Regions from separate parts of the Homo sapiens genome. Here region 1 is linked to region 2. Evidence: fine-mapped expression QTL. A gene starts in region 2. The other region holds a variant in brackets. All regions are shown on one strand. Distances are between the middles of the regions.

Region 1 (4,395 bases), 100 kb before region 2:
TCTTCCTTCCCCCTCCCCGGAATTCACTCTGCCCTCACCACCCCTGCTCGCCGGCTGTCCCTTCCGTCGGACCTCCTTTACAATATCCACACTCTGCTCCCTGGCAGCACTGTCGCTCCCTTCTTGGCCCGGCAGCCGGGGCGCTGGAAGCGTACGGGTTCCTTTTAAAGTGCTGCTAGCGCGCACTCGCCCTCTCAGCGTTGCAAGAAAGGGGAGCGCGAGGGAGCTAAAGAGATGAAAGCCCGGGGTTGTACCTTGAGGGCTAACCACTCCCTTCCCCTATCCAACTTGTCTGGGAGAGCCCCCAGTGTCTCCGTGGCGCGTTCCCACTCTCTTGTCAAAACTCACAGAGGTCTCTCCGGAATCGTCTCTCACCCCTTCCCTGGGGATGAGCGGGCACGATCAGGCACTTTTGGCTGAATATTTCAAACTCATCGGCCACAATAAAATAAGCCCTCAAGCCACCCGGTTAGCTCCCAGACCACCTTCTCGGCTTCTGGACCCTGTCGCCCTCTGTCTTCGCCCAGCCCCTGCCTCTCACTTTCCCTCCCTCTGGCTCTGAACCAACTGGAAGTTGTGAAAGTTGGGCTCTGAGGGTGGAGGAAAAGGGAGAGAAGCTGAAGGTCTAAAGTGGAGAGCAATGCCATTTTAATTCTCCCTCCCCCACCCCTTTTCACCCCCTCAATGTTAACTGTTTATCCTTCAAGAAGCCACGCTGAGATCATGGCCCAGATAGCAGTTAGGACAAAAAAAGATTAACAGGATGGAGGCTATCTGATTTGGGGTTATTTGACTGTAAACAAGTTAGACCAAGTAATTACAGGGCAATTCTTACTTTCAGGCCGTGCATGGCTGCAGCTGGTGGGTGGGCGGGTGGTGTGAGGGAGAAGACACAAACTTGATCTTTCTGACCTGCTTTCCATCTTGCCCCTCCATTTCTAGCCCTAAATGCATATGCAGACACATCTCTATTTCTCCCTATTTATTGGTGTTTATTTATTCTTTAACCTTCCACTCCCCTCCCCCTCCCCAGAGACACCATGATTCCTGGTAACCGAATGCTGATGGTCGTTTTATTATGCCAAGTCCTGCTAGGAGGCGCGAGCCATGCTAGTTTGATACCTGAGACGGGGAAGAAAAAAGTCGCCGAGATTCAGGGCCACGCGGGAGGACGCCGCTCAGGGCAGAGCCATGAGCTCCTGCGGGACTTCGAGGCGACACTTCTGCAGATGTTTGGGCTGCGCCGCCGCCCGCAGCCTAGCAAGAGTGCCGTCATTCCGGACTACATGCGGGATCTTTACCGGCTTCAGTCTGGGGAGGAGGAGGAAGAGCAGATCCACAGCACTGGTCTTGAGTATCCTGAGCGCCCGGCCAGCCGGGCCAACACCGTGAGGAGCTTCCACCACGAAGGTCAGTCTCTTCCCCCAGTCTGCGTGGGGGAGGGCTGGTGGGACTGGCTAGAGGGGCAGTGAAAGCCCTGGGGAAGAAGAGTTCGGGTTACATCAAAGCCCCAGTCCAGGAGGCTGAGGAACAGAGCTGCTTACCTCCAAGAATTTGCAGAGCTGCCGCCGAACTTATTTTTTGGAGACAGAGGGGGAGGTGTTCAGGGGAAGGGGAATGACAGCACTCAGACGTGGGCTAGCCCCAGCGGTGTGTTTTTGCTATATCAAAGCCTTTTCTGCTAGGTTTTCTGCCCGTTTTTTTCAAAGCACCTACTGAATTTAATATTACAGCTGTGTGTTTGTCGGGTTTATTCAATAGGGGCCTTGTAATCCGATCTGAATGTTTCCTAGCGGATGTTTCTTTTCCAAAGTAAATCTGAGTTATTAATCCACCAGCATCATTACTGTGTTGGAATTTATTTTCCCCTCTGTAACATGATCAACAAGGCATGCTCTGTGTTTCCAAGATCGCTGGGGAAATGTTTAGTAACATACTCAATAGTGGAAGAGGGAGAGGGTGGTTGTCTGCATGTTTCCTCCTGCCTGTGCTCTGTTGGCCCCTCTTTTTCTTTACAACCACTTGTAAAGAAAACTGTGGACACAAAGCCAAGGTGGGGGGTTTAAAAGAGGAGTCTGATTGTGGTGCCATAGAGGAGTTGACACATAGAAATTATTAGACATATCAAGGAGGCTGGATATAGTTTCTGTCTTTGGTGCTTGAGAAATGCTAGCTACATTTTGCTGGTTTGTTAGCTGCCCCACTTATCTGCTCCTTCAAATTAAGGGGTATGCTTATTTTCCCCCAGTAGGTTTCCCCTGCATAAGCAGAATTCACCATTCATTGCCCAACCCTGAGCTATCTCTTGACTCTTCCATCTTTGAAAAAAGTTCATATGCTTTTTCTTTTCCCCTTCCTTCCTAACTGTGCCTAGAACATCTGGAGAACATCCCAGGGACCAGTGAAAACTCTGCTTTTCGTTTCCTCTTTAACCTCAGCAGCATCCCTGAGAACGAGG[T/C]GATCTCCTCTGCAGAGCTTCGGCTCTTCCGGGAGCAGGTGGACCAGGGCCCTGATTGGGAAAGGGGCTTCCACCGTATAAACATTTATGAGGTTATGAAGCCCCCAGCAGAAGTGGTGCCTGGGCACCTCATCACACGACTACTGGACACGAGACTGGTCCACCACAATGTGACACGGTGGGAAACTTTTGATGTGAGCCCTGCGGTCCTTCGCTGGACCCGGGAGAAGCAGCCAAACTATGGGCTAGCCATTGAGGTGACTCACCTCCATCAGACTCGGACCCACCAGGGCCAGCATGTCAGGATTAGCCGATCGTTACCTCAAGGGAGTGGGAATTGGGCCCAGCTCCGGCCCCTCCTGGTCACCTTTGGCCATGATGGCCGGGGCCATGCCTTGACCCGACGCCGGAGGGCCAAGCGTAGCCCTAAGCATCACTCACAGCGGGCCAGGAAGAAGAATAAGAACTGCCGGCGCCACTCGCTCTATGTGGACTTCAGCGATGTGGGCTGGAATGACTGGATTGTGGCCCCACCAGGCTACCAGGCCTTCTACTGCCATGGGGACTGCCCCTTTCCACTGGCTGACCACCTCAACTCAACCAACCATGCCATTGTGCAGACCCTGGTCAATTCTGTCAATTCCAGTATCCCCAAAGCCTGTTGTGTGCCCACTGAACTGAGTGCCATCTCCATGCTGTACCTGGATGAGTATGATAAGGTGGTACTGAAAAATTATCAGGAGATGGTAGTAGAGGGATGTGGGTGCCGCTGAGATCAGGCAGTCCTTGAGGATAGACAGATATACACACCACACACACACACCACATACACCACACACACACGTTCCCATCCACTCACCCACACACTACACAGACTGCTTCCTTATAGCTGGACTTTTATTTAAAAAAAAAAAAAAAAAAGGAAAAAATCCCTAAACATTCACCTTGACCTTATTTATGACTTTACGTGCAAATGTTTTGACCATATTGATCATATATTTTGACAAAATATATTTATAACTACGTATTAAAAGAAAAAAATAAAATGAGTCATTATTTTAAAGGTAAATCATGATTTTTTTTTTCTCCTTAATCCTTTCTCTTTTCCTTCGGGCTCATCTCTTTTGAATGAGGCTTTTTTCTGTTCAGGTGAGTTGGAGGCTGGATGGAAGTCAAAAGGTGGTACCTGGAGGTGGTTAAGTTGTAGGGACAGGAAGTAAACTGTTGGCAGAGAGAGATGGTAATTGCCAGCATGAATTGTTTTCTATTTCTATTTAATGTTAACAAGGATGCAGTATCCTCTCCCATCTGGATGACACATGCCTTGGAGAAACACTGGGATGAAAGGAGTGTAGGTCAGATTAAAGACTTCATTTCAGGCCCCTTGTACATCTTCTGTTTCACTCACCTGTTGAGGTGTATCACAGCTGAGCGTGATGAGGTCTCAACCCTAGAAAAATGATACCCACCTCTGCTTTCATGATACCTCAGGGTATCTCCAGTTATTACAGGTACCAATGTGATATTTCCAAATCAAAACTAATTTGTACACTAACATCATAATGTGTGTGTGAAGGCATGTTTTTAAACTTATTTTTTTTTTCTCCAGGTAGGACTCTTTTGTTTTTTCTTTTGTCTTTTTTTTTTTTTGAAACAAGTTCTCTCTTTGTTGCCCCAGGCTGGTCTTGAACTCCTGGGCTCAAGCAATCTTCTCATTTCGGCCTCTTTGGGATTACAGGCATGCACTGCTATTTTGTCTTTTTTTTTTTTTTTTGTAACAAATAATGTACCCTACCTTCAAAAAGTTTGATGACTACTGTTTTAATATGCCACTTGATAGAATTTCCCATTGTTTCTTGACTTTTTCCCTTGTCCTCTTTTCCCAATGTGAAGGCCTTCATCAAGTTTAGGATCCCAACAGATTGGGCTGGGTGGGG
Region 2 (4,395 bases):
TTAGAGAAAAGAAAATGTTATTAAGAAAATCATAAGGAAAAGAAAATATATTTCCTATTTATTAAGTGGAAGTGAATCATCATAAAGGTCTCTATGCTTGTAGTCTTCATGTTGAGTAGGCTAAGGAGAAGGAGAAAGAGGAGGGGTTTTGTCTTGGTATCTCAGGGGTGGCAGAGGCAGAAGAAAATAAGTGTATAAGTGGACCCACACAGTTCAAACCCGTGCTGTTCAAAGGTCAACTGTACTTGATCTTATTTCATGTTTTGTTTTTGCCTCAAACTAATCTTAAATGAGAAGAAAACCCCTATGTATGTCCTTTGAGGTCAGATTGCATATATTCAGCCTATTAATGAAAATTAGCTTTACGCTAAAAGCACATTAGAAGCCTACACAGAGAAAATCAGCATCTACTGGGCAATATTGAATAGTAGTGAAGAGGCTGAGCTGGGAGTCAGGGAGATTTGAGTTTCTGTCTGGTCTCTGCCTATTGCTAGCTGTGTGATGCTAGGCAGATTGTTTAACATCTCTGAGCCTCACTCTCTGCATGTGTAAAATGGGGATAGCTACAATACCTGCATGAATATAAAATGAGACAATGTGGTAAGGCACTTCAGGAGCCTGGCAATCAATCAATGCATCTAGTGAGTTGATACATTTTATTATTTAAATTGTAGTCAGAAAGTTTGCCCTTGGATAAGGTAATCTCTCACTTCTTTTACATGTTTTCTACCAAGAGACCCTTACATCAACTGGATAGCAGAATTGAACTAGAGGGGAGATTAGCTCTGAACAACTTATCCAAGTCTGATGGACCTTAAAACCAGTATTGACTACATTTGCTGTAGCTGGCCTAGGTCTGCCCTACTTCCTATTGTCCAGCCCAAAAGGGGCTGGAGAACTCTAGAAAAATCACTCCCGTAGCAAACAAACAAACAACAAAAACAAAAACAAACACAATCAACATGACCCAGCCTTTAGCAACTGCTCCAGGAGCAGCTGTAAATAGATCCAGAGAACTTATCTGTTGCCCCTCACAGTGCCTGAACCAACATATACTCAGATAGAATAAGAAAAAATGGTGATCAACTGGTTGTCAAACCCGAGTACCTCTTACAGACAAGTAGAGTTCTGAGTTCTACAGTCTTCACTGCAGTGCCAGGGGAAATCAGCATTGCCATTCTTATTTTACAGGCAGAAAACCCCCGGCACCAAGGGATTAAACAATTTGTATTGGAATGAGATTTTACTAACTCCATAGAAAATGGACCTAAAATTTAAACATGGGTAAACCACATCCTTTATTTAAACAATATTTTACAGTCTACGATGAAAGAGTACTTAGAGATGGAATTTGCAGATTGGCTGTTCATGAGTTCACAGAAAAATTATGCAACTTTCCATTCATTCAGCAAACACGTATTCAGTTCACAGTGCTAGGCACTGTGACAGGCCCCAGAGATAAAAGCTCATCTAATAATATTACCTGCTCTCATGGAAAGCATAAGAGGACACACATGAAAGAAATAAAATGACATGGATACTGTGACAGTAACAAAAATCTGTATATGTTACAGTAAGAGCCCGAAGAGAAGACAAGTCCTGAAAGATCACTCTGTATTCGTTCTGCCCTGTGTCTGCTTGGCAACAGAGAGAATGCTAGCAAACACTGAAAGAGTTGCAATCCTTGCCAATTGCAAGCCCACAAACAGGTGAACATAATATAAGAAAGTGCTAGAAATCGTGACTGCATGTGAACATAGAATGCTATCTTTTGTGTCTAGTATCTGAAATGAGATTGTAATTATTTTCCAAATCTTCAAAAAATGGGCTTTGGAGTTTCCCACAATTTGACTTTTAAATCATAATTCTCTGCTAATGGTTATTTTGGCAAAGTAGAGCCTTATCACGGGGAGAGCCTAAAATCAACCCAGAGGTTAGACAGTTGGGAGAAGGATGGAGTTCCAGGACTTGTCAAAATTAAACACAGCTTTCAGCCCACTTATGCACTCTCTTCGTGAAACATTCTCTTGCATTGACTTTGGCAACGCCTATTTTCCTGGTTTCCTTCTAACTTACCAACATTCCTTCACAGTCTCTTTTGCTGACTCATTATCCTCTATCTTTAATAAGAGGTTTTTCAGGGCCCTTTTATTTTCTCACTATACTCTTTTCCTTGGCCATTGCCTCTTCAACCATGACTTCTATTACAATAGGAATGTCAATCACTTTCACCTGTCTTCAATTTAGATCTTTCCTCTAACACCCGGATATGTAATTCAACTCTTAACTTGATATCTCACTTGGAAGAGTTACAAGCCTCTCTGAAAAAAATCCATACAGGATGGAATGCATGGCATTTTCTCTGAAACTTCCTCCCTGTCCAGTGTTATCTACCTTGGAACGATTGTCTCATTTAGAGGGACTCTCTAACCTGAGTACACATTTGAAACATCTGAGGGCTTTGAAACATACCTGCTCCTGGACCACCTGCTGAACCAATTAAATCAGAATTTCTGTTGTGAAGATCTCCACGTGAGTTTAAGGTACGGCTAGGTTAAGAATTGCTGAATATGTCGCTCAACTTGGAAATCCGTTTGTCTTGATCTCTCCCTTTTCATTATCCTTTCATAGTCAACCACCTGTTGATATTTCATCTACTAAATAGCTCTTGACTCTGTTTTTATCATCAAAGCCATCACCAAGGTACCATCTTCGCTGGTCTGAAATAATCTTCTAACTGTTCTCATTGCCTCTAATCTTAGTTTATATCCATGCCATTGTCCACAATGCAGCCAGGGCGATTTAAATAAATCTGATCAATCACTTCCTTGCTTAAACATTGCACCGGCTTTCTGCTTGATTTTAAAATAAGCCACAGATACTTATGGCCTATACATATGTGAATATAGGGGTAGAGTTTTTGTTTGTTTGTTTTGGTCTGATCAGCAAATTTCCTCATCTCTACTCCTCTGGAACATATTTTCCTGACCCCCAACCTACCGGGTGGGCATATGATCAGGTCTCTTAGGGGTGCGGATGGTGATCCAAGCCTTCCGGGTTATCAAGGGCCCTCCTGCCTTACAATTTTGGGGACTAGAGTAGAAACAGCTTTGCCTCTGGTTTCATAGTGAAAGAGTACGAATTTGAAGCGCTTGGCAACCATCTTTCTCCCCCAACCTCACACGGTCAAACTCAGCACTCCTGACAACTGGGGGAAATCTTCTATGATGAATTAGTTATTTGAGGAATATTTTGTTTATTTTCCAGCTTTCCTGCTCAACTGTTAGTTCCATGAAGGCAACAGCCATGCCTGCTTCGTTCACTGAAATATCTTCGTTTCCTAACACACAGAAAGTCATCATTTTTTGACGGATGAAAGAATGGATGAATGCCTAGTCTTGGAGACATCTACTTGCAATAAAGGTTAGATGAAGGAAATGGATGCCAGTGGGAGATTTGTGGATCTATTTCACCAGATTTCACTCTGCTGACTCAGCAAAATGGTCCCCGAAGAAAGTATGTATGATATATGAATGCCTAGCCACCTGTCTTGGAACAAACAGGGATTTCTTTAGCTTTCTCCCACCAGGAGATGCTCCCCTGGCATTTTTCAATACTCCTCTTCCCTAAAAGGTAAAATTTACGTCCCGATAGTCACAGTGGGCTGCTTTATTGTACAATCTGACATCAGAATGGAAGGAGAGAGTATGCTTTTTAAGTTCCTTAAAATGCAGTTCTATTGAAAATAGCTGTTGAGACAAATAAAATAAGCTGCTAAGGAACAATAAGAGACATGATGGAGTTATAGAAATGTGTTATTGTGTTCCACCCAGAAAATATTATGCAATACAGGGATAAATTTATTCCTGAAGAATTTAAAAAATATTTATATAATCTTCTATGATTTTTGCTTCATAATGCAGTTAATTCACTAGGGCTTTTGCTGTTTGGATGTGGCCATTTGGTTTTGGTGGAAAATAGTTTGACATAGTCTAAAAAGCAAACTCTAAAAATGTATCTATTTTAATTATGAATACATTGTGACTCAGATTTATCCCATCTTTGAACTTCACCCCATCTCCAACTATGCTCCCCAGGGTAGGGATTAGGGCTGAGATGAAATAAGGGATGGGCCAATGACAAGGCGCGGGGAGGGAGGGTATGGAAATGAGGGCTCAAAAGGCTGGCAAACTACGTGGAAAGAGGAATCACATTTTTACCACACTTGCACATCTCAGACGGAGCCACCCATCATTCTAAGTCAGGAGGCTGCTTGTTTTCAGCGAATTCACTTGTATCACATGTACCTCAGTGTCTCAGATTTCTGTCTGAAATGATCATTGTTACTGTCATTTTCTTTTAGTTAATACATAGATGTGTTCATTTAATGGAGAT

Which allele goes with the higher level. Alleles are on the strand shown, and positions count from the first base shown. SD is a standard deviation of normalised expression in the study named.
For the expression in cerebellar hemisphere of the gene that starts at base 2,412 in region 2, allele C in region 1 goes with a higher level than allele T (moderate effect, 0.57 SD a copy in GTEx).

What was found. PIP is the estimated chance that this variant, and not a neighbour inherited with it, causes the effect. A credible set is the group of variants that fine-mapping cannot tell apart.
Region 1: its variant is the best candidate, but not a certain one, in a credible set for the expression of LINC02331 in cerebellar hemisphere (GTEx, PIP 0.87).

What each region holds. Positions count from the first base shown.
Region 1 is chr14:53,948,868-53,953,262 of GRCh38, reverse strand. BMP4 (bone morphogenetic protein 4) reads left to right here. Exons shown (of 4, transcript NM_001202.6): 3 at 1,034-1,410; 4 at 2,375-3,527. The coding sequence starts at 1,041. The coding sequence ends at 3,231. Among named protein-coding and RNA genes, the nearest start is that of MIR5580, 2.6 kb to the right of the region's middle. The variant T/C (reference allele first, on the strand shown) is at 2,459.
Region 2 is chr14:53,848,843-53,853,237 of GRCh38, reverse strand. It overlaps LINC02331 (long intergenic non-protein coding RNA 2331), which reads left to right and starts at 2,412. Exons shown (of 6, transcript NR_184221.1): 1 at 2,412-2,543; 2 at 3,268-3,423. RefSeq lists an enhancer at 1,954-3,153.